Linked DNA regions of Homo sapiens: all the other regions are linked to region 3. Evidence: fine-mapped QTL for protein levels in blood plasma. A gene starts in region 3. Each other region holds a variant in brackets. All regions are shown on one strand. Distances are between the middles of the regions. Region 1 overlaps PPP1R16B (protein phosphatase 1 regulatory subunit 16B). Region 2 has its middle 390 kb from the start of LINC01734. Region 3 holds the start of LBP (lipopolysaccharide binding protein). Region 4 has its middle 97 kb from the start of DHX35.

The links. PIP is the posterior inclusion probability: the model's chance that the variant is causal. The UK Biobank Pharma Proteomics Project read protein levels with antibody pairs (Olink). The fine-mapping took linkage between variants from a reference panel, not from the people measured, so its PIPs are less certain.
Region 1: its variant is fine-mapped to the plasma level of the LBP protein (UK Biobank, PIP above 0.99).
Region 2: its variant is fine-mapped to the plasma level of the LBP protein (UK Biobank, PIP above 0.99).
Region 4: its variant is fine-mapped to the plasma level of the LBP protein (UK Biobank, PIP above 0.99).

What each region holds. Positions count from the first base shown.
Region 1 is chr20:38,914,395-38,922,500 of GRCh38, forward strand. It overlaps PPP1R16B (protein phosphatase 1 regulatory subunit 16B), which reads left to right. Exons shown (of 11, transcript NM_015568.4): 11 at 3,763-8,106. The coding sequence ends at 4,272. Among named protein-coding and RNA genes, the nearest start is that of FAM83D, 8.0 kb to the right of the region's middle. RefSeq lists an enhancer at 5,960-6,831. The variant C/G (reference allele first, on the strand shown) is at 3,394.
Region 2 is chr20:39,607,985-39,616,090 of GRCh38, forward strand. No RefSeq gene overlaps it. Among named protein-coding and RNA genes, the nearest start is that of LINC01734, 390 kb to the left of the region's middle. The variant C/T (reference allele first, on the strand shown) is at 3,657.
Region 3 is chr20:38,339,175-38,347,270 of GRCh38, forward strand. LBP (lipopolysaccharide binding protein) reads left to right here and starts at 7,308. Exons shown (of 15, transcript NM_004139.5): 1 at 7,308-7,466. The coding sequence starts at 7,343. RefSeq lists enhancers at 3,027-3,803, 4,584-5,361.
Region 4 is chr20:39,055,223-39,063,328 of GRCh38, forward strand. No RefSeq gene overlaps it. Among named protein-coding and RNA genes, the nearest start is that of DHX35, 97 kb to the left of the region's middle. The variant T/A (reference allele first, on the strand shown) is at 4,697.

The DNA of each region.
Region 1 (8,106 bases), 580 kb after region 3:
TTAACCTTCCTGTTGTCCAGTATCTCAGTTCAACATTGCCAAGATGATGGTGCCTACCACAAAGGGTGTTCTAGGGTCAATTGTGTTCTTATTTGTATAGAACTCAGCCCATAATTTGTACCTCATTAAGCATTAGGCAGATAAGTACATTTAGAAGTTCCCTGCATCATGAGAAAACCTCTTTCGTCTAACCCACATCCTTCAGGCTGGAGTTAATTCCTCTTCCTTCAATGCTCTGATTTCTGACACTGGAGATGGATATAGGTGGGTTTTGTTTTCTTTTGTTGAGACAGGGTCTCATTCTGACAGGGTCACTCAGGTTAGACTGCAATGGTACAAACATGGCTCACTGCAGCCTCACCCTCCTGGGCTCAAGTGATCCTCCTGCCCAGCCTCCCATGTAGCTGAGCCACAGGCACGCACCACCATGCCCAGCTAATTTTTAAATATTTGGGTAGTGATGAGGTCTCACTATGTTGCCCAGGCTGGTCTCCAACTCTTAGGCTGAAGCCATCCTCCCACCTCAGCCTACCAAAGTGCTGGGATTACAGGCATGAGCCACTGCACCCAGCAGGGATTTTTTTCTTTTTAAACTAATAGATTTTTTTTTTCCGAGCAGTTTTAGAACTCTAGAAAAATGAGTGGAAAGTACAGATATTTCCCATATACACCCCCCTCCACCCTGGTTTCCCCTGTTATTAACAACTAGCATTAGTGTGGTACATATGTTATCACTGATGAGCCAATATTGATACATTATTATGAACTAAAGCCCATAGTTTACATCGGGTTTGCTCTTTGTGTCGTAACTCCTGTGGGTTTTGACAAATGCATAATGTCATGTGTCCGTCATGATAGTGTCACACAGAATGCTCTCGCCACTTGGTTTAGGTGGTTATATTAGACAGTTGAGATTGTGAACAACTGGTGAAAGAGACCAGGGCTGTCCCACTAAACAGCCCTGGTATTCTACTTACGCTTCCTCCCCAAACTCTAGCAATCACTGATCTTCTACTGTTTTCATAAGTCTTGCTTTTCCAAAATGTTATATACGTGGAATTATATAATATGTGATGCTTTCAGATTGGTGTTCTATATGGTTTTTTTTTGAGACGGAGTCTCACTTTATTGCCCAGGCTGGAGTGCAGTTGTGCAATCTTGGCTCACTGCAACCTCTGCCTCCTGGTTCAAACAATTATCCTGCCTCAGCCTCCTGAGTAGCTAGGATTAGAGGCCTGCGTCACTGCGCCTGTCTAATTTTTGTGTTTTTCTTTTAGTAGACACAAGGTTTCACCATGTTGGCCAGGCCGGTCTCGAACTCCTGACCTCAAGTGATCCATCCACCATAGCCTCCCAAAGTGCTGGGATTATAAGCGTGAGCCACCACGCTCGGCCTGTACATGTTTTTTTTTAACTGTCTAGATGATGCCAATGTGCATCCAAGATGGGATCAGTGTCTCAGATCTTTGCCACTCTAAGCATCAGCAGGAAATTCTTAGAAGTGCCAAATTGCAGGCCCCAACCCAGACCTATTGAATCAGAATATGGATTTTAACAATATCCCTAGGCAACTCACATACACATCAAAGTTTGAGAAGCACTGACTAGGACCACCAAGAAACGGTCTCTCCATGACATGGCATCAGTCTGCCTGCATAGTTCAGAAGGAGCCATTAAAAAAAAAAAAAAGGTTGGACTCGGTGGCTCATGCCTGTAATCCCAGTGCTTTGGGAGGCTGAGGTGGGAGAATCATTTGAGACCAGGAGTTCAAGACCAGCCTGTGCAACATAGTGAGGCCCTGACTCTAAAAGGAGAAAGCGAAGAAATACACACTCATAAATGGAAACTTACTATGGAAAGTGTTCTTTGCCTTATCACATATTACCATATATATATATAACATATATATGTTATATATGTTATATATGTATGTTATATATAAATACATATATATGTTATATGTACATATATGTTATATATGTACGTTTTATATATATTTATATATGTATGTTATATATAAATATATGTTAGAAAACTAGATTATAAACTAGATTATATATATATATCTTGGACATCTTTCCATGCCAGCTTGTGGAGAATTCCTTCATTCTTTTTGCCAGCTACAGAGCATGCCAATAGAAGTACTGGCCACAGTGTCCTGCTTGCCCAATGATGACTTTCAGGCTTTGCACTAATGAGAGAGAAAATCTGTGAAATGGGCTTGCTGGTGCAAAGTATACAATCTTTTCTAAAAATTTTTATCATTATTATTGTTTTTATTTTTTACTGAAGAGCTGGGGAGAGAAGAAAGGAAAAAAAGAAAAAAATTTCAGTGAAGGATGATGCAAAACTGTCCATCAAAGAGACTGTAGCAATTTACATTCTCACTTATTTCCCCATACCCCTGCCAACACTGAGTAATAACACACTTTAAACGTATTTGTCAGTGTGATATCCAAAAGTGATATTTTGTTGTTTTAATTTTTATAGTATTAACGATTAGTGGGGATGAATATTATTCCAATGCCATGTATATCTATATATTTTGCTGTGGGCTACATATTAGTATCCCCTGCCTACTATTTTTATTGGGTAGATAGGCTTTTAAAAATTGACTTTTGGCTGGGTGCGGTGGCTCATGCCTGCAATCTCAGCACTTTGGGAAGCTGAGGAGTGTGGATCACTTGAGGCCAGGAGTTCAAGATCAGCCTGGCCAGCATGGTGAAACCCCATCTCTACAAAAATACAAAAATTTGCTGGGTGTGGTGGTACGTGCCTGTAATCCCAGCTACTCGGGAGGCTGAGGCAGGAGAATTGCTTGAACCCGGGAGGCAGAGGTTGCGGTGAGCAGAGATTGCGCCACTGCACTCCAGCCTGAGAGACAGAGCAAGACTCCGTCTCAAAAAAAAAAAAAAAAGGACTTTTAAGAGCTCTTTATACTTTTAGAAAATTAGTCTCTTTTCTGTAATATATGTTGAAAATATTTTCCTAGTTTCTTCATGTGTCTTTTGACCTTGTTCCCTGTTCATGGTGATTTTTGCTGTGCTTTAAATGTTGTTGCATGTATCTATTTTTTAGTTTATAGTTTTTAGGAAGCAGCTACTTTTCAAACTCTTGTTATCCAAGGATTATTAGGTGTACAGGATCCCTGGGTAAGAATCTTTGTGAGATATGCTTCATATACAGAGGAAGGATTACAAGTGACTGAAAAACCCAACTCAAATGGACTTACACACAAGGAATTTATTGGCTTGTGCAACTGAAAAGTCTGAGCCTGGAAGGATCCTGGACTTCAAATGGGTCATCAGGATGCAGTCTCTCTTAGCCTTTCTTCATGCCAACTTTACTTGCAAGCAGACCCTTCAACATAGTATCTCCCCAGCCCTCAGCTTA[C/G]GTCATTCTTACTACCCACAGTTCCTACAGAAACTTCTCTTTCCCAGTTGTTCTAGCAAAAGTCCCAGGGTTGCTTCACTGAAGCAATTTCAGTTAAGAACTCATCCCTGGGCCAATCCCTGTAGTGAAATATGTTGACTAGCTAGGCCTTGGGTCATGATCCAGGCCCTGGAGCAAGGCCAGGGGTCGGTCAACTGTACGGAAATTCATAGATTGGGGGTTCCCCAAAGGAAAACCCTGGCCCCGATACCCAGGGAGAGAAAACAGATAGAGGAAAAGTCCAAACAATAATGCCCTCAGCAGAGAGACAGGTGGATAGTAGGTTCAGATCTTCCAGCCAGCTGGTAATGTTGTCCTTCTCACTCGCAGAACCCCAGGCTGGAGAAGCCCGTGCTACTCTCCGAATTTCCTACCAAGATCCCACGAGGTGAACTGGACATGCCTGTTGAGAATGGCCTCCGGGCTCCGGTCAGTGCCTACCAGTATGCGCTGGCCAACGGGGATGTCTGGAAGGTGCATGAGGTGCCTGACTACAGCATGGCCTATGGCAACCCTGGCGTGGCCGACGCCACCCCGCCCTGGAGCAGCTACAAGGAACAGAGCCCTCAGACGCTTCTGGAGCTGAAGCGGCAGCGGGCTGCAGCCAAGCTGCTCAGCCACCCCTTCCTTAGCACACACCTGGGCAGCAGCATGGCCAGGACGGGCGAGAGTAGCAGTGAAGGCAAGGCCCCCTTGATCGGAGGCAGAACTTCACCGTACAGCAGCAATGGGACCTCGGTATATTACACGGTCACCAGCGGAGATCCCCCACTCTTAAAGTTCAAGGCCCCCATAGAGGAGATGGAGGAGAAGGTGCATGGCTGTTGCCGTATCTCCTAGTCTCCGTGTGATGGAGGAGGGAGATGCCTGGGGAGGGGCTCCTGGAATCCAGGCCAGCCCAACAGCCCTGGCTGGGGAGGTGTCAGGGCAGCTGGGGAGAGGTGGGCTCTGCTTTTCAGAGGAACTCAGACCCCAGCCCTCAGCTGGCTGCCCATAGCATCCCATGTCCCACGTCCCGTGGTTCTGCTTCCTGCTGCATCGTCTGCCATCTGACACAAGGCCTGTCGTGGCCTCCTGGTTCACTCTGCTGTCTGATCTTGGGAGGGTGGGCTTGAGATCCCAGCTCTATTCTTGGTATAAAGGCTTCTCCGGATCAGTACATGCATGTCACATTAACACACACACACACACACATATACACACACACACAAGCTCGATCAGTGTGTGTAGGAATGACATACCTGGGCTCAGGGGAAGCAAGGGGGCTTAGAATTTGTGGGGTATTCCCAAAAGGATGGAAGTTAAGACTCAGAGTCTCATTACCACTGCCAATGTGGTTTTAGCAGGGGAGGGGACCTGCTAAGCTGAGACCCATAGTCCTGCTCAGAGTTATCCCAAAGTCTGAGCCACCAGCCACACCTGACAGGGGTGAGAAGTCCTCGCTGTGTTCAGAGGGAGCCAGGAATCTACATGGGTAGATGAGATAGACACAGACCTGCTCCCCGCAGCCTTGTTGAGAGCCACACTTCTGCCCATGCCAGGAGCCAGCTGTGTGACCATCCAGGGGTGGAGGGGGAAAACCAGGCAATTTCGTTCCTGGAATCAACCAAATCATGTTTTCCTCTTGGATGGAAGTGTCAAAGGCAGAAGGGTGTGGGAGGGGGACAAGGTCAGTATTTACCAAAGTGTATCTGATTTTAAAAATTCCTTTAGTCTGTAAAACTCCTAGAGGGAGGGAGGTAACTGAATTCACTTCTTTTTGTGGATCGTATCAAGGTCACTGGGTTTTACTGGCTGGTGCTGGGAAAATGAAGCTAAGTGAGGAGCTTCCATTGGAATGCTTTTCCAGGGAGAGAGGCCAGTTAATTTAAAAAAAACAGTCGCTAGTTAACAGCGACAGAGCCCAGCACCCTGGGGTCTTTGTGAATATCCAGACTGTTTCAGCCCAGCCCATCTCAGCCAACCCTCCTTAGACTGAGCTGTCAGAGCAAGCAATTAGGGGCCAGCCTGCCTCCACCTCCCACCCCCTTCCACCTCCATCAGTCATGTGTGCAGAGTCAGTGCTCGGGATCCCGGGCCCAGCTTTTGCCTTTTTGGGGATGCTTGGTGAGACAGATTTGCCAGTCAGCCCTTTTGAGTTCCCGCCTCACCCAGGGGCTCCCAGCCTGCACTTGCAGGAGTGGTGATGCCCCAAGTCTGCGAATCCAGGGTGCACGTGGTCAATATCCCCTCCTGCATTCAGGAGAGCCATGGTAGGGCTAGAGTTGGGTCTTGCCCAGCCCTGCAGTTTCATAGTCCCAGCCTTCCTGGTGCTGGGGAGGGAGGACTGTGAATGGCTGTTCTCCCCTCACTGCTGAGTCTCCCAGGACCCCCTTTGGAGATGCCCATGGCATGGGCACTGCCCACAGGCTCAGCCAGAACCTCTTGGTGTACCCGATAAGCTGCAGGTTATCCCTTGCTCTGTGCGCCTTTTATTTGTCCTTAAACTACCTCCTTAGAGCTCTGAAGGGGTCTCCTAGTTCCAGATTTTAATTTGGGGAACAGATCTGGGTTCTTTTTAACCCTCTTCTTTCTCAGTCTATGAGAAACTTGCCCTGAGGGGCACCTGGGCTAGGGGCTTGGGACTGGAAGACCATCCCCGCCTTGTGCCACAACTTTGGTCATGGGATCTGCTCTTTGTCATTCTTAGCCCCCTACTGTGGCCCCCATAGCCCCATAACCCAGAGAGGGAGCTGGACTTCAGGGAGCCTGAGTGATGCTTTCCCAGGAGCAGGGCAGCTGGCTGGACCAGAAAGTAGAGGGCCCATGGGAGTGACTGCACCCTTGGTGGCTGCTGGAAGGGGAGAGGTTCTCAGCATCAGGCCACCTCCACCCCAATGCCAGGATAGATGTATTCTAGAGTAGGGGTGGAGGCGGCCCAGGAGGCTGAAGACAGGTGCACAGATGCTTCCCACGACCTTGCCATTTGGGGTGGGCTCTTCAACATCTCAGGCTGTGGCTGGAACAGGACAGGATGATCTAAAACACACGTACCATTGGCTGTAAAACAGTATGAGCCCAGACTGACGCTGAAATCCCTCATGAGCCAACCTTAGCTACAAGGTAGGGAGTTCTGAGGGAAGCCGCGTGCTCCTCAGGAGAGAGCTGTTTAGGTTTTCCGATCTTTTTGCTCAGGGGCCAAACACTGAAGGCACGTACTGCCCAACCCACTGAGCGCCTGAGGCCATTCCCTCCTTTTCCGCATGCCTCCTGCCTCCTGGGCTATTCCTCTCCACCCAGAAGGCTGGGAATCCCAGCTGATTCCCTGACAGGAGCCGACTTCACACACAGGTGACTCTCAGGCATTGGCTCATGTTTTCAGCCAGGGATAAACCATCCCTTCTTGGGGCTTTAAGTCCCTGGGGAGCTTTCCCTGTAGGTCTCCTGGGTGTTGAGAGACAAGTTGGAGACCAACCTCCAATGAATGAGCCGCGGTCATTCATTAATTCACTCACGTAATTTACTGAGTAGCTGCAACATGCCAGCCTCTACGTTAGGTTCTGCGGATAAAGGAGGAATAAGACAGAGTCAGGAGAACTGTTCCTTGTGGTTTCCGTCCCTTGGGGACCACAGGCATCAGCAGTCCCATTCAAGTCACCTGAGGCAAAGTGTCTGCATCTTCGTCCAGCGACCCTTTGCTTTTCGGCTCCTAGAATCCTTAGAGTCTGAATTCCTTTAGCTGGGAACAGCTGTCATGGTCACCCCTGGATAACATTTGCCACCAAGTATAGATGCTGGATCTTGGGTTCCAGGCAGACATCATCCAGGTCCATCTGGAACTTTCAGTGATAGCTGCCTTCAGCCAGCATCTTTGGGGGACTCTATAATAGCAGCTTGAGATCAGTGTCTAGAAGACTGTTCTGCAATTTGCTGCCAAATGCATCTCAGGTTTTTAAAGTCATTGTTTCTTGCTCATGGTGGCTCATTTATTACATAGTCCCCTCACCCCACTAATGGATAATGGGAGGAAAAGTTGCTGCTTCCTTCAGCATCAAAGCCTTTCCTTGGGAATCTGCCTCCCTCCATGGCAGGGGTGGATTCGGGAGCTGGGAGTAACCAGGCAAAGTCAACCAGATGCCTAGCTCCTGCTGAGACCCAGGTCCTATGGCAGCTCCTCATTAGATTAAAGGAGACCACTTCCAAAGCAGGTGCTGCATGGCTCACCATCATATGCCCCAAACAACTGAAAGTTGGCGGTTATCACCAGACTGTGAGTTTCTGGCAAGTAGCTTGGGGAAGCTGAATAAACTCTAGGCCCAGGGCTACTAAAGACTTCAGGATAGAATTCTCCATCAAATATACAGCATAAGTAAAACTGCTCTGCACTGTTTAATCCATTTCCAAGGGGCTTAGAAAAGCTAACAAGGGTGTGTCCCCTGTCCTGCCCCACCGGTTTGCTGGCTTTGTAATAACATAAGACCATTGTGGTTGTTGGTGTCAGATACCTTCCCATCCTGAGCTCTCTCACCTACCTGCTCTCTCTCCTAGAGCAGGATACTGGGGTACTTTTAAGAAGGGTGCTCCTTTTAAGATGCCCAGAAAAGCTGTATTTAACTCTTGCTATTTGTAACTTGGGGATGGTCTCCCCTGCCCCAGGGCACATAAGAGCAAAGGCTCCAATGGTCAGTGGATGAC
Region 2 (8,106 bases), 1.3 Mb after region 3:
TGGCCTTTAAAAATCATACGTCTTCGTTGTCTAGAGTCAGTGTAATGCCATGGGCTTCACATGATCTCTTTCTGAACCACTCCTAGATAGCATCCAGCCTCAGGTCTCTTCCCCTCCATCTATCTAACCTACACATCTTCCTAGAGAATCACACCCACGCTCTCTCACCCACACATCATCTGTAGACACCAGCCACATGCCTCGCTCTACTCTAGATACTTGGGAGTGGGAATGAGGAGTATGTGTTCAAGAAGACAGTCTTGATTCTTGCTCAGGCAGAGACCATGGAAAATTAAACAGGGAATTATGAAATAATTCACATGCCTTCATATTTTACCTAGGGACAAAGCATCAAATGAATAAACACACATAGTTATGTACTTTGAGTGTCCTTCTGTCAGTGTTATTCATATACTTTAAGATGAGCTGGCTGAGGGATTAAGAGGCAGCTTTTATTTCTGGTAGCTTATAGATACAAGTTCTCAGCTGCAAAGTTCTGGCTTGGGCCCCTTGTGAGTTCTTGGACTGCATGAAACTTAAAGCATGATGGTTTTTCCCAGTGGTCCCCCAGATGTGCTAGAGCATCTCTAAGGTATATATGTTAGGTCTTTTCCTAGGGGATCCCACTATGGTTATGAGAGTGAAAATATGTACAGTATGTCACAAACACCAGCTGTTACCTTGCAATAATGGCATTTCTCTCTGGAGCTGATCCTGGAAGCAGAGAAGTAACATAAATCACACTGGGAAGAGCCTTGGACTAGGAGTCAGGAGGTCAGCATTACAGCTCTCCTATTGCCCTATGTCTGGGTGGTCTCTATAAAAGTCTCTTCTCTTAAAAACCACATGATTACCTCAATAGGTGCAGAAAAGGCCTTTGATAAAATTCAACATCCTTCATGTAAAAATTCTCAGTAAACTAGGTACTGATGGACCATATCTCAAAATAGTAACAGCTATTTATGACAAGCCCACAGCCAATATCATATCGAATGGGCAAAAGCTGGAAGCATTCCCTTTGAAAACCGGTACAAGACAAGGATGCTCCCTCTTGCCACTCCTATTCAACATAGTATTGGAAGTTCTGGCTAAGATAATCAGGCAAGAGAAAGAAATAAAGGGTATTCAAATAGGAAGAGAGGAAGTCAAGTTGTCTCTGTTTGCAGATGACGTGATTTTATATTTAGAAACCCCATCATCTCAGCCCAAAACTCCTTGAACTGATAAGCAACTTCAGCAAAGTCTCGGGATACAAAATCAGTGTGCAAAAATCACAAACATTCCTTTACACCAACAATAGAAAAGCAGAGAGCCAAATCATGAATGAACTCCCATTCACAATTGCTACAAAAAGAATAAAATACCTAGCAATACAACAAACAAGGGATGTGAAGGACCTCTTCAAGGAGAACTACAAACCACTGCTCAAGGAAATAAGAGAGGGCATAGGAACAAATGGAAAACATTCCATCCTCATAAATAGGAAGAAACAATATCGTGAAAATGACCATACTGCCCAAAGTAATTTATAGATCCAATGCAATTCCCATCAACTACCTTTGACATTCTCAACAGAATTAGAAAAAACAATTTTAAATTTCGTATGGAACCAAAGAAGATCCCGTATAGCCAAGATAATCCTAAGCAAAAAGAACAAAGCTGGAGGCATCATACTACCTCACTTCAAACTATACTACAAGGCTACAGTAACCAAAACAGCATGGTACTAGTACCAAAACAGACATATAGAGCAATGGAGCAGAAGAGAGACCTCAGAAATAACACCACACGTCTACAACCATCTGATCTTCGACAAACCTGACAAAACACGCAATGGGGAAAGGATCTCCTATTCAGTAAATGGTGCTGGGAAAACTGGCTTGCCATATGGAGAAAACAAACTGGATCCCTTCCTTACACCTTATACAAAAATTAACTCAAGATGGATTAAAGCCTTAAATGTAAAACCCAAAATCATAAAAACCCTAGAAGAAAACCTGGGCAATATCATCGAGGACATAGGCATGAGCAAGGACTTCATGACAAAAATGACAAAAGAAATTGCAACAAAAGCCAAAATTGACAAATGGGATCTAATTAAACTAAAGAGCTTCTGCACAGCAAAAGAAACTATCATCAGAGTGAGTAGGCATCCTACAGAATGGGAGAAAGTTTTTGCAATCTGCCCATCTGACAAAGGTCTAATACCCAGAATCTGCAAGGAACTTAAACTTATTTATAAGAAAAAAACAAAAAACCCCATCAAAAATTGGGCAAAGGATATGAACAGACACTTCTCAAAAGACAACATTTATGTGGCCAACAAATATATGAAAAAAGTTCAACATCACTGATCATCAGAGAAATGCAAATCAAAACCACAATGAGATACCCATCTCACACCAGTCAGAATGGCGATTATTACAAAGTCAGGAAACAACAGATGCTGGCAAGGCTGTGGAGAAACAGTAACACTTTTACGCTGTTGGTGGGAATGTAAATTAGTTCAACCATTGTAGAAGACAGTAGGGCAATTCCTCAATAACCTAGAACCAGAAATACCATTTGACCCAGCAATCCCATTACTGGGCATATACCCAAAAGAATATATATCATTCTTCTATAATGACACATGCACACATATGTTTATTGCAATGCTATTTACAATAGCAAAGACATGGAAACAAACCAAATGCTCATCAATGATAGACTGGATAAAGAAAATGTGGTACGTATACACCATGGAATACTATGCAGCCATAAAAAGGAATGAGATCATGTCCTTTGCAGGGACATGGATAAAGCTGGAAACCATCATCCTCAGCAAACTAAAACAGGAACAGAAAACCAAACACCGCATGTTCTCACTCATAAGTGGGGGCTGAACATTGAGAACTCATGGGCACAGAGAGGGGAACAACACACACCAGGGCCTGTTGTGGGGAAGGGGGTTGGAAGAGGGAACTTAGAGGACAGGTCAGTAGGTGCAGCAAACCACCATGGTACGTGTATATCTTTGTAACAAACCTGCACATTCTGCACATGTATCCCATTTTTTTAGAAGAAATAAAGAAAAAAATTCTTCAATTAAAAAAATCTGTGATTAATATGAAAAAAAACTCTTGTCTTTTCTACATCTCAGGCCTCCCTTTTGCAGAGTGAAGGGATTGAAATAGATAAACATGAAGTGATATTACCCACTGTGCCAAGATTGGAGGACAAAGAGGCACTGGAGAACATTTTCTAGGTTCTTAGACAAGTTGTATTCTGATCAGGGCGTGGAAAGTTATGACAGAATTTTGTTAGGAATGTGCATAGAAAGACATCAGGACAGGTGCCAAATCTAGGAACCAGGTGTTCAGAACAGACTCAACTATCCATGTCTCAGGACTGATCAGGGATGAGAGGACATTAGAGAGACCATATGATGGCATCGAAGTGTGGCCAGAAGCCATATGCGTCTTCATGAGCCTGCATCTCAGGGTTAATTCTTCCAAGTCCTGCCCTTAGTCTGCTTCCTACTAAGGACTCTTCCTCCTCCTTTCTCTTTCTTGGAATAGTCCCAGGACTTTATTGTCTCACGAGACAGAGACTTTGCCTTCTTCATAGCTTTGCCACAGGCAGTTGATCAAATTGCATGGATGGGGAATTCTGGT[C/T]CTTATTAGAAAAACAGAGAACTTCTCCCAGATGTGACAAATGTTACACACACTTGCTCTCATTCCTTCTCCCTGTGTCTATAAAAACATCACTAACCAATTACTGCTTCTTTCCCCTTGGGCTTGGGCATAGCTTTAGGGTCTTCAGCACAGTCTTCCAAACAGCTAGTACCAATCCACTAAAGATGGCACTTAAGATGAAACTGATTGCTCAAACTAGCCTCCAGGTTGTCTCATCGATAGTTCTTTTGAGAATATAACCTTAGTATCCTCCCATGGTAAGTGGCAACGTGGTTTGAAGCTTAATTTTCAGATAAATAATGAAATAATAGGAGCTGTAAAGACAGATAGAGATAGACAGAAAAGTTTTAGGTACACTGCCTACAGAAGAGTTGGGTAACTGAGCCTATTTAAGGCTGGAACTCTGGGTCATAGACTGTGAGCATAGGCAGCTGAGCAGATGTGGCCAGGGGGTTCCCCATTTGTATCTGTCTGGGCTTAGTACAAATGGACTTCCACATGTCTCCTAGAGTGTCTGGTGTCTCCTAGAGTATCGTTTCAACTTGTTGGCTTTCATTCAGATTGGATTTTAGGTACAGACAGGATCGTGTCTACCCATCCTATCATTATTATATTCTACCAGTCTATTAAGAATTGATAAGTAATGGGCTGGTCCTGTTTCCAGCCCACTTCAATCATGTCTTAGTAATGGGGGTTTCCAAGGAAAGAATTACAATTGAGTAAGCACGTGACCTCCACATTCATATTTAATCAGATGCCAGAGGACCTTGGGCAGATCTCAGGTTGCCAGGGGTTCTACAAGAAACTGTAGGGTCTTGACTCTTAAAGGGACAAGTTTCGTCCTTTGTTGGAAATACAATAATAACAATAAATGCAAGAAAAGAAGATACAGAAGATAAGACATTGGCCTGATGTTTTAGTAGAGATCTGGCTTAAGGTGAAAGCAGTACAGACTGAAAACTTTGGTGTGAAGTTAATCCTTTAGTTTCATGTATCTTTGAAATAACATGGAAAATGTGAGCCTCAACAGAGAACCCTGAGTTGTCACCATGGCTGTATTTTAGAGTGGACTATTAATTTTCCTAATTAGAGACAGTGCAGTGCAGTAGAAAAAGATGTAGGGTCTGACATACCTGGATTTTAAACTTAACTCCATCCCTTACAATCTATCAACTTGGAACATGAACTTACTCCTCCTAACCTTCAGTTTTCTATCTACAGAAAATGGAGCAAATTGTAATTGTTTGTACTGTTTAAATGGCATTTCTCTAGGAAGATGGAAGAACCACAGTATTATATATGAGCGTATAGAGATCTGTCCATAGGCATCAGGCACTTTTAGGTCACCTGTCTTTAGCCCTGTTAGAACAGCATCTTAGACCAGCAAAATCCCAGACACTGTTCCCACCTGGGAGTCTCACTTATTCCCCCTTGTGAAGGGTAATTGTGCTTGTACAGCCGGTTCAGCCTTTTTCTATTTAGCCAGCACTCAAGTCTCACCAGTGATTCTCAGGAGGCCAGCAATGAATATTGTTTAAATAGAAAATGTTGTTTGTGCATGCAGTGTCAATGAAGATGTTATTAATACAGCTCCAGGAAAGCAGCTGCTGCCAACCGGCTGGAGAAGCCACAGCCCCATACAGAGCCTGTCCCACAATTTCAGGGCTGAGAGGCACTTAAAAGGCATCAGGTCTAACCTCTGTCCTATGACCATCTGACCTAGATAGGCTCCAGCAGTTCCAAGGGAAGGACACCTACCAACCATCTTAACCCATAATGTGGTTTTTCCATCTCTGGATAAATCTGTTCATTACAACTTTTGTGTTTGTTTTCCAGCATTGGCCTCAAATTTGCTTTTTAAGAATATTCTCTCATTGATGATAATTCAGATCCTTGTGACTACACGGTACAAATAAAATATCCCTTCCTTGTGACAGTTGTGGCTTCAGGGAGGTGTCTCTACTTGCAGGTTAAGCCTTCCCAGTTTTCCCAAGGATCCTTCAGATATCGTGGCTACTGACCTCTATTGCGTCAGACCCATGTCCCAGCTCCACCTTGGACTAGCTGGCTGTGCAGTCTTAGGCAAGCATCCTTATCTCACCCAAACCCCAGTTTCCTCATGTGTGAAGCAAGAAACACGCATGGGTATACATTTACTTAAAATAGTATGGGGCTTGAGGGATGTGAAATTTAAATGAGAACAGTTATAATATGCTTGACACAGTGCCTGGCACATAGTAGGCACTCAGTAATTATGAGTGATCATTATTGTTGTTTTATCATTCAGCTTGGAGCACAGTACCCTAGGTGCGCTCTAATTAACCCATAATTGATCAGAACAATTAGGTTTCATCAGAGCCTATAAAACTATTAAATGAGCTAGGTCCTACTTACTTTTCCACTCTCACCTCTCACTTGTCATTTTCTGTGTTGGCCATACCCCATCTGCATTGGTCTCCTTCCATTTCTTTGCATAAGCCAGAATCTGTCATATCTTGAGGTCTTCACACATGCTGTCCTCTCCTCGGGGCATGCTTTCTCTTTCCATCTGGATGCACACACTTTTCACGATTTCCCTCTTTTCAAGGTCATCTAGTTTTTCAAAACGTTACTTCCCAAAAGAAACTTTCCTTGATCACTCATCTAAACAGCCTTCCCCAATACATCTTTCACACTATTCCCTGTCTTTGCTGCTCATAACATTCACCAAAATATGCAATTATATATTGACCTGTGTGTTCACCTTCTATAATGTTTATCTTTGCTGCTAGACTTAGAACATCAACACAGGGAAACAGTCTTTTTTGTTTTTTAAAAACTGTTTTTCTCTACATGTTATAATGGTAAATGGTAAACATATAGAACAGTTGAAAGGATTGTAAGGCAAACTCTTATGTACATATTCCCTGTATTAAACAACTAACACTTTGCTGTATTATCTTTATTGCACATTTATTCATCTATCCATCCCTCTTTCTGTCTGTTCATCCATTCATTCTTTTATCTTATTTCCTAATGCATTTCAAACTGAGTTGAAGACATAAGTACACTTCACCCCTAAGCACTTCAGCATGTATATCATTATTAACCAGGGATCAATATTCATTTATGATTCTTCTTTCTTGGGTTAAAATGGACATGTAGTAAAATGCACAAGCGTTAAGTGTACAATTTGGTGAGTTTTGAAAACACATACACCTGTCTAACCCAAACCCCTATCAAGATGGAAAACATTATTGTCACTCCAATGCGTTTTCTTATGCCCTTTCTTAGTGAAACTCCAACTCCACTGACCCCAGAGGCAACTACTGTTTTGATGTTTTTCAACATCGATTTGTTTTTCCTTTTCTAAAATTGTATATAAATGGAATTATAGAACATGCATTCCTTTTTTGTAAAACTTCTTTCACTCAACATAGTATTTTTGAGATTCTTCCAAGTCTCAGCATATATCAATAGATCATTCCTTTTATTGCTGAGTAGTGTTCCATTGTATGGATATACCACAGTTTGTTTATTTGTTCCTCTGTTGATGCATCCCTAGGCTATTTTCTATTTTTGGCTATTATAGATAAAGAGATTATGAGCATTCTGTGACATTCTGTTACATTCATTTATCTTGTTTTTTGGCTACCATGAATAAAGAGGCCATGAGCATTATATTACATATTAGTATATTCTTTTATCTTATGTAAATACCTAGGAGTGGAATGTGGGTCATAGGGTAGGTATAAACTTATTTTTATAAAAAGCTGCTGGACCTTTCTTCAACATAGGTGTAGAAAGAGTCTGTTTTCTTTAGTAACATCAACCAGATAGTATGTGAATTTGGCACAAAGTAAGTGCTTAATAAATATTTGTTAAATTAATACACAGAGAAAATAAATAGAAATATAGTGACTGTTCTAATCCTTTCCTACTGTTTACTAGTGAAGTGTGACTGTTTACGAATCATTTAAGTTCCATGAGCCTTCAATATCCTTTTATGTGGGAATAATAAAATGTGCCTTAGATGCCTGAAAAGGTTAGTGCTGAAGGGCCAGGGGCATGGGGGGAGATTTTAGGAGGTGAGGGACACCATTCATTTAATACAAGCGTGCCCTTCCTTCTCTCCCTGACCTCCCCAGTCTGCAAGATTTCGGCCTGCAGCTGTCAGGGAATATGCCAAAGCCTAGGCCCAGGAGGGGTCAGGGTAGGTGAAAGGGGAAGAGGCACTTGGATCAACCATTGGTTGCTCTCAAATGTCTAAAGTTGGCATTTATATACTTGACTTCTCTCACAGTTTCTCTCCTTCAGATTTAACGTCTAGGTTTCTCTGATTTTAAAACTGGGTTATTTGAATGTCAAACTTTCGATAACCCTTTAATAGAGGTGTCCATTAACCTGTGCTAAATTAGAGCCCAGCGTCCCTGGAAATACATGTGACACC
Region 3 (8,096 bases):
TTCTTTGTTCTGTGGCATAGGTTGTACACTGTAAAACATAGGTTGTACCAGGTTGAGGAAACAAAAGTCTTTCTCTAATTTGTCCACCAGTAGTATGCATCTTTTTCTCCACTAGCCAGGGGCTATGGAGGCCCTGAATAGAACAGAAGAGCAGCTAGCAAGGGCGGAAGGAAGAGAGAGAAGGGAAGCACAGCGTGGGATAGACTGGGAGGCCATGAGGACTGTTAAGGGCTCTAGGTTTTGTTCCAAAAGATAAGGCAAGCCACTGGAGAGTTTTGAGCAGAAGAATGTTACAATCCAATTCACATTTGTAAAAGAGCCCTCTGGCTGCTGGGGAGACTAGCTGGTAGATATGGACACACACCTGCCATCCCCCACCCTCATTCTCTTTGGAGTTAACCCCCTTCTACACCTGCCCTCTACTTTCTGTAACATATAGGCACCCCCTGCTCCACACTCTATAGAAAAAAAAAAAAAAATGCAATTATTAGGTTGGTGCAAAAGTAATTGCGGTTTTTGCCATTACTTTTAATGCAAAAACCGCAATTACTTTTTTTTTTTGGAGACAGAGTCTCGCTCTGTCACCCAGGCTGGAATGCAGTGGTGTGATCTTGGCTCACTGCAACCTCTGCCTCCCGGATTCAAACCGTTCTCCTGCCTCAGCCTCCCAAGTATCTGGGATTACAGTCTCACACCAGTACGCGCGGCTAATATTTTGTGTACATATATTTTTAAATATAGACAGGGTTTCTCCATGTTGGCCAGAGTGGTCTCCAACTCCTGACCTCAAGTGATCCACCCACCTTGGCCTTCCAAAGTGCTGGGATTACAAGTGTGAGCCACTGAATCCAGTCTTGGCCGTTACTTTTAATGCCAAAAAAAATAATTACTTTTCCATCAACCTAAATCTTTCTTGGACCTGAAGATTGGTGCATGAAACACATTGTGCCTGCGAACTTCTCTCTAATGGCTGAGGAAAGGCAGTTGCTTGGGGGTTAGGGTTTGAGCAGCATTCCCCAACACACTCCAAAGGTTCTGCCAAGTTGGCTACAGAACCACTATTTGAGCAGCTTCTCCCTTCAGGCTAAGCATTGTCTGCTGCAGATGACTGCAAATGTGTGTTTGGGGTTTCTTTGGGTGACGTTGAAAATGTTCTAAAATTAAATTCTGGATTGTACACTTTAAATGGGTGAATTTTATGTATATGAAATATATGTCAATAAAGTGGCAAAAGACAATTGAAGAAGAAAAAAAAGAATTGTTCACTCCAAACTGCCTAAAAGCTCACCATCAGAGCAGCTTCCCTTCTGGGATAAGCACAGCCTTCCTGGGGTTCCTTTTGGAAATGCTGACTTATTAAATAAATATGAGGGAGGAGTACCCTCTGCAAGGAGAGAAGGTGGGGAGGGGCACAGGAAGACTAAGCACTGTCTTCATCATTTTGCCATGTCCCGCTAGTGGCCATGAGCAGCCCTGTCCCTGGGTCTATCTCTTCAGGCTTATGATCCTATTTAATCCTCATGACAACCGCTAAAGGTAGCCAAGGTTGCCCTTGTTTTTCAGATGAGGAGTCTCTAGAAAAGTCGTGTGGCCTGCTAAGCTAACTGTTCAGAGCCTGGGCTCTGGAGTCACCTGGCGGTGGTTTCAAACATAAATCCGGCCCCCTCAAGAGCTGTGTGACTTTGCAAATGTTCCTTAACCTCTCTGGCCCTCTATTTCCTCCTTTGAAAAGGAGAGTTAAAATCTTGCCCTCTCGGCATGAGGTTATTGGGAAGAATCAGAGGTATGATTGATAGGGTCATGGCACAGTGGTTAAGAGTATGAACCATGATCCCAGATATCTTGGGTTTAAATCCCACGTCTGCTATTTACCAGCTGTGTGACTTTGGGCAGTATACTTAATTCTCAGGTTTTCTATTTCTCATCTATAAAGGGAACATCATTATAGTACCTACCTCATAAAGTTGTTATGAGAATCAAATACATGTCAAATCCGTGGTACAGGGGTTGACAACAGTAATCCAAGTTTGCTCTAATTTGAATAAACGCAGTTCTTCTTACTATACTGTAAAGACTATATCTGACCAGGTGCAGTGGCTCACGACCTGTAATCCCAGCACTTTGGAAGTCTGAGGCAGGTGGATCACTTGAGCCCAGGAGTTCGAGACCAGCCTGGGCAACATGGCGAAACCCAGTCTCCACTAAAAACACAAAAATTAGCCGGGCGTGGTGGCACACACCTGTAGTCCCAGCTACTCAGGAGGCTGACGCACGAGTATCATTTGAACCCAGAAGGCGGAGGTTGCAGTGTGCTGAGATCACACCACTGCACTCCATCCAGCCTGGGTGATGGAGTGAGACTCTGTCTCAAAAAAAAAAAAACAAAAAAAATACTATATCTGGCTACAGTAGTATTCCCAATGCCTGCCACATAGTTGGTGATCAGTAAGTATTTATTTTAAAAATGATCTGGGATTTCAACCCACATCTGCATAACTCAAAACATTTATGCCAGTGATTCTCAATGTATGATCCAGGGCTGTCTGCCTGAATGGGCCTGACCCCAAGAATCAGAGCCCCTGGCTGGCCAGAACTCTGGATTTATCCTCTCCAGTTCAGCAATAGGCTCACAGTGTAACCTGGGCCAGTTCTCCCTCTCTAGGTCTCAGTTTCCCCATCTGTAAAAGTAAGGGCTCTCTGGGGTGAGGAGCTGTTTATCCACATGACCAGCCCTGCTCCATGGGGGCTCCTGGTATCTCAAGACACGCAACCTTCAAGCCACAAAGGATCGTCACTGACGTTACTACTTTTATTTTGTAAGCCCGCATGTCTCAGGGCTCATGTGTGTGTGTCTGTGCGTGTGCGTACACAGGCACACATTCAGATCTGCAGGTGATGTGGCTTGGGGAGAGGCTGCCATAAATATTAAACTCCCAACTCCAAAGTACCCTGCAGAGATTCAGAACTGCAGGAATTCATAACATCATTCTCTTTCAAGAGTCAGTGTTCTCAGGAGTGTGGGCACCGTCATAGAAAACTATCGAAAAGGAGAGTGAAGCATTAGAGAACTGCTGAGCTTGGAGGGAACTCGGAGCTCATTTAGTCCCTTGTTCCCGAAGCTCCAAGCACAATCCGTGGTCAGCAGCATCACCCTCACCAGGGAGCTTGTTAAAATGCAGAGGCTCAGCCCCAAGAGGAACATGATGGATCAAGATTTGCATCTAAACAAGATCCCTGGGGGACTTGACTGCACGTCTTTGTTTCTGAAAAGCTGTCCTAGTCCCCAGCCCTCATCTGCATTTGGGGGAAACATGAGGAACAGAGAGGGGTGGAGTTTGTTCCAGGTCCCCCAGCCCATTAGGAGCAGGGCCTTGACAAAAAACCTGTAAGACTTTGGAAAAGGATTCAAAGCTCTCTGCGAGAGGCAGGCGTTTGCACAAAAGATGAATAAGTGCAGAAGAAATGCTCAGTGTTGCTAATTGTGTCCAACAGGGTTCAGGCAAGAAAAGAGAATCCAACTGCATTGGTTCTTGGGATTTGAATAAAGTGGCTATTTCTAGAGTTGGGGGACAAGCTTGAGGAAACCAACCAGGGACTGTTTTTCCTAAGGCTCAAGCAGCAAAGAAAAGCATCTGGGTATCCCAGCCCAAGGAGATAATAGGAGCCAAGGACAAGGCCTTATCAGGAGGGACACAGCCAACTGCCACACTTGTGATCTAGAGAAGACAGCAGGGAAAAGTGCCCTGACATCTGACCTCCTGCCATGCCACCCTCTGGCTGAACCCAAGTAGAGATGAGGAAACTGAGTCACAAAGTGCCCAAAGTCACCCCGTGGGGGAGTCAGGATTCAAATCCAGGCCATCTGGCCCCAGAGTCCATAAAGATAAACATAAGGTTTGTTTATTCCTTTGGCAATTATCTACTATTTGCTGCTCAGTATTCTAGACACTATGGATTCCAAATTCTGGGTTTTTCAAAATCTTTTCAGTAACACTTTTGTAGTGAGAATATTATCGGTGGCGAGTCCGCAACACTCCCAGCCCTTGTCTTCTCAGAGGAAAGAATTCAATTGAGAGACGCAGGCAAGTTTTAAAGCAGAGGCAAAGGTTTATTGAAAGAAGCAAAGTACAACTGAGAGATCAAGTGCCCCGCTCAACCTTTGGCTCGGGGCTTTTATACACTGGCTTGGTTCTGGGGTTTCTTCTCCTCCTTGATTCCTCCCTTCGGTGGGCTGCTGCGCCCTCCCTGCATGCGCAATGGCCTGCCAGCACTTGGGAGGGGCCGCATGCGCAGTGTGTTTACTAAGGTTGTGCGCATGCTCACTTGGGGTGATTTTCCCTTACTGGTCCGTCGCCGCAAGAAAAAGGTCATATACAAGTCAGACTCCAACATTTGCCCTTCTGCTCGACCTTACCAGGGAATTGTGGTTTGCTGGCTCCAGATGATGTCAACTATCTGTTAGGGAACTCCTCTCCCTCTTGGCGCCATTCGTGGCCACTTATCATGTCAGAGGGACAGTTTTATGATCGCCTGTCCATCATTTGATGCACTGCCATTTCTGGGGGCCCTCTCCTGCACAAGAACACAATAAACAGCCTTGTTAAAAGAGTCCCTATTTCACTGCAATAAGACTGAGTGGTGGCCAGAGTGGTAGCAGCTGTTGCTTTTGTGGAATTGGATGGACAGCCTGGTAGGAGAAAGGCCCAGGGGTTCTGACCAGCAGTGGGGTCGTGCTGCTCCCTGAGGCCTCTGCTGGGTCCTGGGCCATCAGCAGGGACCTTAGCCAGCAGTGGGCACCTGCAGGGGTGGAGGCCAGGCCTGGGCCATGTGGCAGCTCTAAGGTCCAAAGATTGCTGCTGTGGGAAATTCCCACCCCTGCAAATGACTCCCAGCCAGGGACATCCTTAAACTGCTGCCAGAGGAAGAGTGACATCTATGTCCCCATAAGATCCTTATGCTCCAGAATGTCCTCCCCCACTCTCCTCCCCTCCTGGGCAGGCTGAGGTCCAGGAAGCAAAGGCCCCTAGGCACACTGGGGATGCACCTGTGAGCCCTTTCCTGCTCCAAAGCCTCCCAAAGGCTGGCTCCTTACCCTGAGGCCTCTGCTCAGCTTGTTGCCTCCCAAGAGAACCCTGCCCTGACCAGAGTTTTGGAATGGCATCCTGCAGACCTGGACTTAAATTCCTGCTGGGTGACTGCAGCCTACATCACTTCACCCTGCCAAACCTCAGTTTCTTCATCTCAAGACAAGACTAAAATATCCACCTGGGGTTGCTGATGCAAGGATGAGAGGAGACGTGCAGCTTAACCAGCACAGCGCCTGCACATAGTAGGTGCTCAATAAATATCAGTTTCTTTCCAATTTCTGCTGGGTGCTGCAAGGATCTCAGGAAATGGAAGACTCAGCCGTGCCTGCAAGGAGCCATCAGACTGGTGGTGTGGGGACTGAGGGGAGGGACGGATGAGGATCCCAACAAACCTCAGCCCCAGTGACAGGAGCAACACGGTACAGAGGAGCAGAGAGGCCTGGACTGTGGGGTTCCCTGTGCTTAACGTGGGACATTCTGATCTTAACCTCAGTGCCTGCCAGTGCTGTTTGTGACCTATTGGGAGTCACCCTGTTAATCCCACCACATTCAGTTGGTTGAGGCCATCATGAAAACCTGCCCAATTTCAAGGGAAGGGGGCAGAAACATTACCTTTTGATGGAAGGAATATCAAAGAATTCGTGGGCATATTTTTAAAGGACCACAATTATCAAAAAGCAGAGTGGTTAATGCTGTGGTGGGGAAAGCGCAAAGGGTTCTGGGACCTCAGAGGGGACCCTTTCTAGAATCCAGAGAAGCATGGGAGTGGTCAGGGAAGGCTTCCTGGGGGTGAGGGCAAAGCAGAACTCACAAATGTAAGCAGGGCTGGGGCAAAACTCTAAAAATTAAACACAGTCTGTACTATAAATTTTGTTTTCCAGAATGAAATTTTACTATCTTTACTTACTGCGAATATATGCCCGGGACCATACCCCCAAGAAAATAAAAATTTTAGAGGCTGGGCATGGTGGCCCAAGTCTATAATCCCAGTATTTTGGAAGGCCAAGCGGGAGGCTTACTTGAGCTCAGGAGTTCGACACCAGCCTGGGCAACATAGCAAGACCTCGTCCCTACTAAAATACAAAAAATTAGCTGGACATGGTGGCTCACACCTGTAGTCCCAGCTACTTAGGGGGCTGTGGTGGGAGGATCACTTGAGCCCAGGAAGTTGAGGTTGCAGCGAGCGATGTTCATGCCACTGGACTCCTGCTTGAGCAACAGAGTAGACTTTGTCTCAAAAAATGAAAAAAGAAAAAAAAATTGTACGTATCAACAAGCAAAAACTTTTTTAACACTTATAATTCTACCCCCACAACCAGAGACAATGCCTCATGACTCCTTGCTAAATATTTTCCAGATTGTTGAACATAGAAGCCTATTTTGAACCCCCCAAAATAGAACCTTACTCTATGGTGCCATCGGAAACGGATGCCTCATGACATCCCTTTCCTTGCCAAGAAATACCTTTATTTCTGCAGCCTCACTTTAAGGGGCATGTCATAATTCATTTAACCAATGCCCTTCTGGTGGATACATGAGGTTGGGTCTCACTTCTCCTGTCCTGTTTCCCACAGCATAGCAGTGGTATCTTGGAGCAGTGATTTACTGGCACACTGACTCAATTATGTATTTAAGGGCAAGTCCCTGAAATTGAATTCCTGGGTCACAGGGCATGCAACTGTTTAAACATTTGCCAATTGCCTTCCAGAAAATTTCACCACCAGCAAGGTTTGAGAAACACTGTTTTCCCATTGGGGGAAACATTTATTTTTTAAATAAACGAGCCAATATATTTTAAAAAAGAGAGTTTGGTTGGTGCCAGATGTAGCTTCACTCTCAACCCTGCCCTCTGCTGGGGGTGAGATCTCAAGGGAGCTATGTGGCTTTTTTGAACCTCAGTTTCCTCATCTGCTAAACCAGGCCTTCCTAGCCGAGCTCTTAAGAGACTGGCTGAGATGAGGCAAGATGAACAGTGATGAATATGGGGTCTTTCTGTGGGGAGGGTGGACAGGGATGATCATAGGAGTCAGGCTTCCTCATCCACTGATCTGGGCAGTGAAAACTGGCTTCTAAGTATGACCTTATGACTTCAGTGATGTCGCAAGCAGGTTCCAGTCCCTGTGCCTCCCCTTCCCGCTCCCAGGAACCCATCCAGCCTCAGGAACTGCCCCCAGCCATCGAGCCTTGGCTACTTAAGGGACCTGGGCCCAATCCACAGCTGGGACAGTCCTGGCCCACTGCACTGGGAATCTAGGATGGGGGCCTTGGCCAGAGCCCTGCCGTCCATACTGCTGGCATTGCTGCTTACGTCCACCCCAGAGGCTCTGGGTGCCAACCCCGGCTTGGTCGCCAGGATCACCGACAAGGGACTGCAGTATGGTAAGAAGCCACATCTGCTGGCTGGACTTGGCAAACCCACGCTCCAGGCTGCTCTGGGTACAGTGGGGACAGGGAGTGGGGACACAGACCGGACCCTCTCCCTGGGGCAGTGCCACCTTCTGGGTCAGGTGGCTCTGGCTCCTATTCTGGCCTTACTGCCCACCAGCTGAGTGCCCTGGGCATGTTATTTGTGGTAGTGAGGTCCTCCACCAGCCAACAGAACACAGCTTTGCGTGCAAGTAGTTGATTTGGGAAATGATTCCAGGAAACACTGTAGGGAATCGGTACTGAGATGAGGAAGGGAGGGCAGCCAGGAGAGAGTGTGCAATTAAACCAGCCACCACCTCTGATGATGGGAACCACTCAGCTGGGAAAATTCTGCGTAAAGTTTGGAAACACATGCCTCTGAACTGGAAGTCAGAATTGTGGTCACCTCTAGAGGCAGGCAGAGACCCTGAAGGGCATGAGGGAGGTCTGCCGGGGTGCTGGAAGTTGCCATATCTTGATCCAGGTGGTGATCACATTCCTGTATAAACATTAAAAATTATTTAGCAATACCTTTAAAATTTGTGCCCGTTAGGTACTTTATGTATATTATTCCTCAATTTTAAAGAATGGGCAGGCCAGGCA
Region 4 (8,106 bases), 720 kb after region 3:
ATAAGCTTCCTTGTTCTGGTAGTAATTCCCTACCCCTCCACCCTAAGGACCAGTGAAACTGTTATGAGAGTGACCAAGAAGAAACGTCTTCTCTTGTCCTCTTCAATGTCTGAATTCTGCATCCAGCACATTATCTTCGGTGTCTCCCCCATTTACTTCCCTCGCCTTCTTCCTTAAGGAATATCAGCAATGATAATCCCAGCGACTGGCCAGGCACGGTGGCTCATGCCTGTCATCCCCGCACTTTGGGAATTGAGGCGGGAGGATCACTTGAGCTCAGAAGTTTGAAGCTGCAGTGAGCTATGATCGTGTTGCTGTGCTCCAGCCTGGATGACAGAGCGAGACCCTGTCTCAACAAAAAACAAAAAAACTCAGAAACTATAGGTACTGGTAGACATGCTAATTTCACATCTTAAGTAGACTCCTTAACTCTTTCTGTTGCACTGGCTCTCAGTCAATTTTGGGGAAATCTCTCTGGGAGGGGAACTCTCAGGTCCAAGGCTGGCAAAGGACCAATTGAGTTCCTCTTCTGGAGGACTGGGTGACACAGACACTCAGGTCACTGTGTTTGCCCTGAAGGTGGATGGCAGATGGGCTCCAAAGATGCTGGGGTACAGATCCCCTCTGCCTTTGGTAAGAGGCTGGGGAGGTCTGGCCCTGGTGGAGCCCCCAGGCTGGGACCTTTGGACCAGAGCAGCTTCATTTGTGTACCCAGTGAATCTTACGGATTTTATCACATTCTCTGTGTGCCATAATGTGAAGAACGTTGGGAAGCATTGGTGTAGGTGCAGGGGTGAAGGCAGTTGCATTGGGCCATGAGGCCATCTGTGCTTTGTTTGCTGGTCTTGGACCAGCCTCTGTTTGTGAGTATGAGCTTGTCTGGGCCTCTGTTTCTTCAATCAGTAGCACTGTAACCAGGACACTACAGCAGATATAGCCCAGGAAGGGGCCAAGGGTCTTGAAAGGGCAGAGGCAGTGGAGTGGGGACGATACAGGGAGTCTGAACTGGGAAGGGCCTTGCTAAGAAGAATGTGAAGCCTAAGGTGAGACAAGAGATTATTCGAGAGCTTGGAGCATTGATATATGAGTTGGGTATGATTGTCCCTATGTTTCAGACAAGGAAACCAAGGCTCAGAGTAGTGGAAAAGCTCACCACAGTCAACGGCAGAACTAAGTGGGCCTGAGTGCTTTCTTTTCTTAATGCTGCCCCTTGTAGCTCAAGGAAATTTGATGAAGAGTGTTTTGAAACTTCAGCTGGCTCTTGACAAGTGTTTGTGTGACATTTTGGTGGGAGAGATGGAGATATGTCTGCTGGTATTTGGGACAATTGGGTACATCGCATCAGTACCAGTGGGAATAGAGCAGCCTTGACATTTCACCATCTGAGGAATGGCAGGAGGACTGAGACCATTCTGTCGGAAGAATAGAAAACTTAGAGGGTGCGTTGAGTTGAATAATTTGCCCCAAAAGATATGTCCACTGAGAACTTGTGAATGTAGCCTTTTTTTTTTTTTTTTTTTTTGAAAAAGGAATGGCCAAGCACAGTGGCTCAAACCTGTAATCCCAGCACTTTGGGAGGCCAAGGCAGGCAGATATCCTGAGGTCAGGAGTTTGAGACCAGCCTGGCCAACATGGTGAAACCCTGTCTCTACTAAAAATACAAAAATTAGCCAGGTTTAGTGGTACATGCTTGTAATCCCAGCTACTTGGGAGACTGAGGCAGGAGAATTGCTTGAATCTGGGAGGTGGAGGTTGCAGTGAGCTGAGATTGTGCCACTGCACTCCAGCCTGGGCGGCAGGGTGAAACTCTGTCTCAAAAAAAAGAAAAAAAAAAAAAGAAAAGAAAAAAGAACAAGAAAAAAAAAGATAAAAGGAGTTCTTGCAGATGCAGTTAAACTAAGGATCTTAAGATGAGATCATTTGGGATTATCTGGGTAAGCCCTAAATGCAGAAGAGGAAAAGACATAGACAGAGGAGAAGCTGCTGTGGAGACAGAGGCAGAGACTGGAGAGGTGCAGCTGCAAGCCGGAAATGCCAAAGACTGCGGGCGGCTGCAGGAGCTCAGAGACAGGCATGGGACAGGTTCTCTCTCGGACCCTCCAGGAGGAACCAATCCGGCCAACACCTCTATTTTGGACTGCCCTCCTTCTCAGAACTGTGTGAGAAGGAGAAATGTCTGTTGTTTGACATCACCAAGCTTGTGGCCATTTGGTACGGCAGCCCTGGGGAACTCATACTGGGGGGTAGGATGCCGTCCTCAAAGAAATGAGGGTTGTCATGTGGAAGAGGGACCCTACTCACTCTGTGTCCCTGGAGGAATGTGAGCTTTCCTCTGAGCTTCTAGGTCCTTAGGAAAAGGGCTCCGTACAGTCAGGGGGTTCAGGGATGGAGTGGGCTGCACTGGGGAGGTGTGAGTACCCCATTACTGATATGCCACCAGGGAGTTTCAACTGGCATCTGTTGTGTAGTTGAACTTGACCATTTGTGAGGCCCCCTCCAGCCCTGAGAATCTATGCACTGGTGCAAAGAAAGAGGTAAATGTTTAGAGAGGTGACAGAGGACCTAGAGCTAATGTCCAGGATGCTGCCCAGGGGCCTTAGAGATGGTGACAATGGTTGGTGGGGATATGGGTCTGTTGGAGAGGAGGAAGAAGAGGAAGAGAGCCTGACTGCCAGGCAGGCAGGGGTATCTTTGGGGCTCTGGGAGCCCCAGCCTCTGGATTCTGCCCTCAGTGAGCTTTGCAGGACACCCTACCATACCCCCTCCCTGCTTTCTTCTGATAGAGTCGTTTCCATTTGGATATTGCCTTGAACATGATGTTCACAATCCCCAAAGGGAAGAACATCCCTCAATAAGCCACACAATTCTCCCAGCCAAGAACTTGCTGTTCCAAATTCATTAAAATTGCTGTGATATTCTCTTCCCATTTATGTGCCAAGAGCCGTTGTGGACAGAATTCATAATACCATGGAGTGGTGGATGAAACCGATTGTGCAGTCAGAAAGAAGTGAACTTATTTTATTTTATTTTTAATAAAAGTGTACCTTTCAGGTTGGCAACAAATGCGAGTGTGGGTGTGGGGAAATGGCACACTGATGTGTTTATTAAGGGAGCACAAATTGGTCCAACCCCAATGGATATCAACTTGGAAATGATATAAGATGCAAAATGTGCATGGTAGTTTTGAGTTTTTTAGTCTCTAAAATTCAGGTGGGCGGCCGGGCGCGATGGCTCACGCCTGTAATCCCAGCACTTTGGGAGGCCAAGGTGGGCGGATCACCTGAGGTCAGGAGTTCGAGACCAGCCTGGCCAATATGGTGAAACCCTGTCTCTACCAAAAAAAAAAAAAAATTAGCTGGATATGGTGACACAGTTGTAGTCCCAGCTGCTCAGGAGGCTGAGGCAGGAGAATCGCTTGAACCTGAGAGTCGGAGGTTGCAGTGAGCCAAGATGGTGCCACTGCACTCCAGGCTGGGTGACAGAGCAAGACTCTGTCTCAAAAAAAAAAAAAAAAAGTGAAATTCAGGTGGGCAAGATATGTCAGTTTTAGTTAGTCTGTGATTGAATTTGTTTTTTGTCTCAATACCTCCCTCTCCCTCCCTTTTCCACCAGAAGGTAGAAAATTAATTCTAGGTAATTCAAGATAAACTCGCCATTTGAGGGGGTCTTCAGCCCATTAAGATCTCTTCTCTTACGTTCCTTCCTGGGGGATTTTTGCTTTACCTTAGTAAAGAACCTTTCCTTGCTTCCTGGGGGGCGAGGCACTGTATTTGGGGGTGCTTATGTAGTGAGTCCTTGCTAGGCTGTGACCCCTCACTGCAACAATGGTGCTGGTGAAGGTGTCTGTGGACCAGCGCTGAGTTATCTGCGCCATTTGCTCCTTACTGTGCAGCACTGAGAGCCTTTCCGGTGTGGGTCCCAGCTCACTTTTCTGATCTTCTCAGGTGCACACACTCATTCAGCTCTTCCTCCGTGCTACTTTGGAGCTGTGAACATATAGGGGAGTCGCCTGCGGCTGCGTATCTCCCCCACCATCTCTGCTAGCATGGCTGAAGATTGCAGATGGGAGCTGGCTGGAGCCCAGGTCACCTCTACTTTCAGATCTCCAAACTCATTCAAGGCACTATCTCCCCCATCCCATACTCAGCGCCTACCTGAGCAGCATACCAACCCACACGGCCTTTCTCTGGAGACCTTCATCCCTAGTCTGTTCTCGACCTCCTCCCTCCAGCTTAGAATGTTTCCCTTGTTTTGATTCCCTTTTTGCAGGAAGAAAAGCTCACTCAACAAGCACTCTTCTGCATCTTACCTCTTGAACCTCAAAGCCAGGAACATCCCCACTTTCCTCCTCTATGCTCCTCCACATCGCTCCTTCTGCCAGGCGGGTGCCTAAATTGGAGTGAGTTCTGGGAGAAAAAAACCAATGGGGGCCAGGCATGGTGGCTCACACCTTTAATCCCACCACTTTGGGAGACCGAGGCTGGTGGATCACCTGAGGTCAGGAGTTTGAGACCAACCTGGCCAACATGGTGAAACCCCATCTCTACTAAAATACAAAAATTAGCTAGGCATGGTGGTGCGCGCCTGTAATCCCAGCTACTCAGGAGGTTGTGGCAGGAGAATCGCTTGAACCTGGGAGGCGGAGGTTGCTGTGAACCGAGATTGTGCCACTGCACTCCAGCCTGGGCGACAAGAG[T/A]GAAACTCCGTCTTACAAACAAACAAACAAACAACCCAAAAAACAATGGGGCTCATACAACACTTGTCCTTTTGTGTTCTTCTTATATGAAATATATAGACCAGTCAAATTCGTGGAGACAGTGGAATAGAGGTTACCAAGGCTGGAGGGAGGGGGAAATGGAGAGTTATTGCTTAACAGGTACAGGGTTTTGTTTGGGGTGATGTAAAAAGTCTTGGAGATGGATAATGGTGATGGTTGCACAGCAGCAAGCATGTATTTAATGTCTCTGAATGAACTGTACATTTCATACTTAAAACAACCAGTGTTATGTTATATATACATTATCATAATAAAAATAGTAAAAAATAAATAAATGCCAGCAACAGAGCAGAAAATAAAAATCCCGCATCACATCAGCCAATACTTGACAACAGCTTTCTGACTTTGACCCGTTGTTCCATTTAGGGGTCTTGAGTCTGTGGAAACCCTGGCCGGGGTGTACCCAGCTCGAGTGCAGGGGGGCGCGTAGCAGCAGCCTGGCGTGTCATCGTGAGACACGGGAGACAACCTGGGTATCCATCAATGGGGGACCAAGTGAATAAATGATGGCGGAGCCACACAATGCCGTGCTGTGCAGTGGGATGAAGAATGTGCCCTGCTCCGTGTATGTGCCGACGTGGAAGATGCCCACGATGTATTGTGCAGGGAGCAGAATAATGTGTGTGGTAGCATCTTGTTTGTGTAAAAAGGCCTATATATATGGAATGGGTATGAATTTGCTGGACATTTGAGGTAAAGGAAGTGCGACCTCCTTCTTGGCTCCCTCCCTTTTTTCTCTCTTTACCAGATAAGGATTTATATTTGCTTTCCTTACTTCTTTTTCCTCTTTCCACAACTGTGATTTTCTAATCTACGTGTCTACTGTGCCTGACAGTCATTTTCATCTTTTTTTTTTTGGAGGGGGCCCGATTCTCGCTGTGTTGCCCAGGCTGGAGTGCAGTGGCATGATCTCTGTTCACTGCAACCTCTGCCTCCTGGGTTCAAGCGATTCTCCTGCCTCAGCCTCCCAAGTAGCTGGGATTACAGACGGCTGCCACCATACCCAGCTAATTTTTGTATTTTTAGTAGAGACGAGGTTTCACCAAGTTGGTCAGGCTGGTCTCGAACTCCTGACCTCAGGTGATCCACCCACCTCGGCCTCCCAAAGCCCTGGATTACAGGCATGAGCCACAGCACCCAGCCTTCATCTATTTTTAACATGTAAAAAATTTTGAGAGATAACTAATATACAGAAAAGTGCATAAAACAGAGATGTCTAGTTTAAACTTATAAACACCCACGTATCTACCACCCAGGCCTAGACATTGAACAGTGCTAAGCACCCCCATGTGCCCTCCCCAGTTAACTCCCTCAAGAGGTAACTGCTCTTCATTTATAGTAACAATCATTGCTTTTAAAAACTCATTTTATTACCCCTGTAATCCCAGCACTTTGGGAGGCCGAGGTGGGCGGATCATGAGGTCAGGAAATCGAGACCATCCTTACTAACACGGTGAAACCCCGTCTCCACTAAAAAATACAAAAATTAGCCTGGCGTGGTGGCAGGCGCCTATAGTCCCAGCTACTCGGGAGGCTGAGGCAGGAGAATGGCGTGAACCCGGGAGGCAGAGCTTGCAGTGAGCTGAGATCGCGCCACTGCATGTCAGCCTGGGCGACAGAACGAGACTCCATCTCAAAAAAAAAAAAAAAAAAATTCATTTCATTTTGAATAAATTTAGATTGATAGAAGAGTTGCAAAAATAAACCAGAGAATTCCTGTATGCCCTTTGTATACTCACATACCCTTCACTCGCCTTCCCCTAATGGAAACATCTTACATAACCACAGCATGTTTATCAAAACTGAGATTGACACTGGTCCAACACTATTTACCGAACTACGAACTTCATGGATGTCGCCAGTTTCCCATGAATGTTCTCTTTCTGTTCCGGGATCCACTCCAGGATCCCATATTGGATTTAGTTATCATTTCTCCTTAGTTTCTTCCATCCATGACTGTTTCTTGGTCTCTTCTTGTGTTTTCATGACTTTGGCACTTATAAAGAGTGCTTGTCAGAAATTTAAGTAGAAAAGTAAGAAAAGCCAGGTAGAATCCTTGCTTTTCTTTGTAATTTTCCTCTCCTAAGTATATATCCCTGAACAACATAGTTAGGTTTGGCCTGTTTTGAATTTTATCTAAGTGAACTAATACACGCATATTCTTTTGTGTCTTACCTTTTTCATTTAACATTATGTTTTTGGGGGAACCATTCATGTTTTTGTGTGCAGCTGAAGTTCATTTTTCTTGCTGAATATTATTCCGTTGTATGGCTGTAATAATAATAATGCAATGGCTATAATTCTGGATTGTTTCTAGGTTTTGGCTATTGCAAACAATGCTGGCTGAAGCATTGTTTCTTTTTATTTTACTTTAAGTTCTAGGATACATGTGCTGAACGTGCAGGTTTGTTACATAGGTATACATGTGCCATGGTGGTTTGCTGCACCTGTCAAACTGTCATCTAGGTTTTAAGCCCCGCATGCATTAGGTATTTGTCCTAAGCATTCTTTTTTTTGAGACAGGGTCTCACTCTTGTCACCCAGGCTGGAGTGCAGTGGCCCCATCTTGGCTCACTGTAATCCCTGCCTCCCAGATTCAAGTGATTCTCCTAGTTCAGCCTCATGAGTAGCTGAGACTACAGGTGGGTGTCAACATGCCTGGCTAATTTTTTTGTTTTGTTTTGTTTTGTTTTCAGTAGAGATGGGGTTTCACCTTGTTGGCCAGGCTGGTCTCAAACTCCTGACCTCAGGGGATCCGCCTGCCTTGGCCTCCCAAAGTGCTGAGATTATAGGCATGTGCCACCACGCTCGGCAGATGGCCGAAGCATTCTTATTACATATCTCCTGAAATAGTTGGGCCCACATTTCTCTAGGAGAGGAAACCAGGAGATAAATATCCAGGAGAGGAAACTTTGGCTGAAGAATTTCCATGTCTTCAGCTGGACTAGATACTGCCAGACTTTCTTCCAAAGTGGTTTTACCAATTTAAACAGCCCCACCTGCAGCGTCAAGTTCTCAGTGTGCCCTATCATTATTTTTTCCCCTAGTCCTTAGTAACAGACATCATTATTTTTTGAAATCAAAATAAATCAGTCAAGATTCTGGCAGGAAAGAGATGTACACAAAATGCTTATAACAATGCTAGGGTTCTATTTAAGAGCATTTAATAAAGAGATTATTTATACAAGAGTGGCCAGGATGAAAGGAACCAATAAGAAATGCTGAGACACCCAGGCACTAGGGCAGCAGGAAGCTGTTGCTGCCTCTGGGGCTGAAGGGACAGGAGGGAGAAGAGGGGAAAGCGGAGGTCCCTGCCTGGGCTGTAAGCA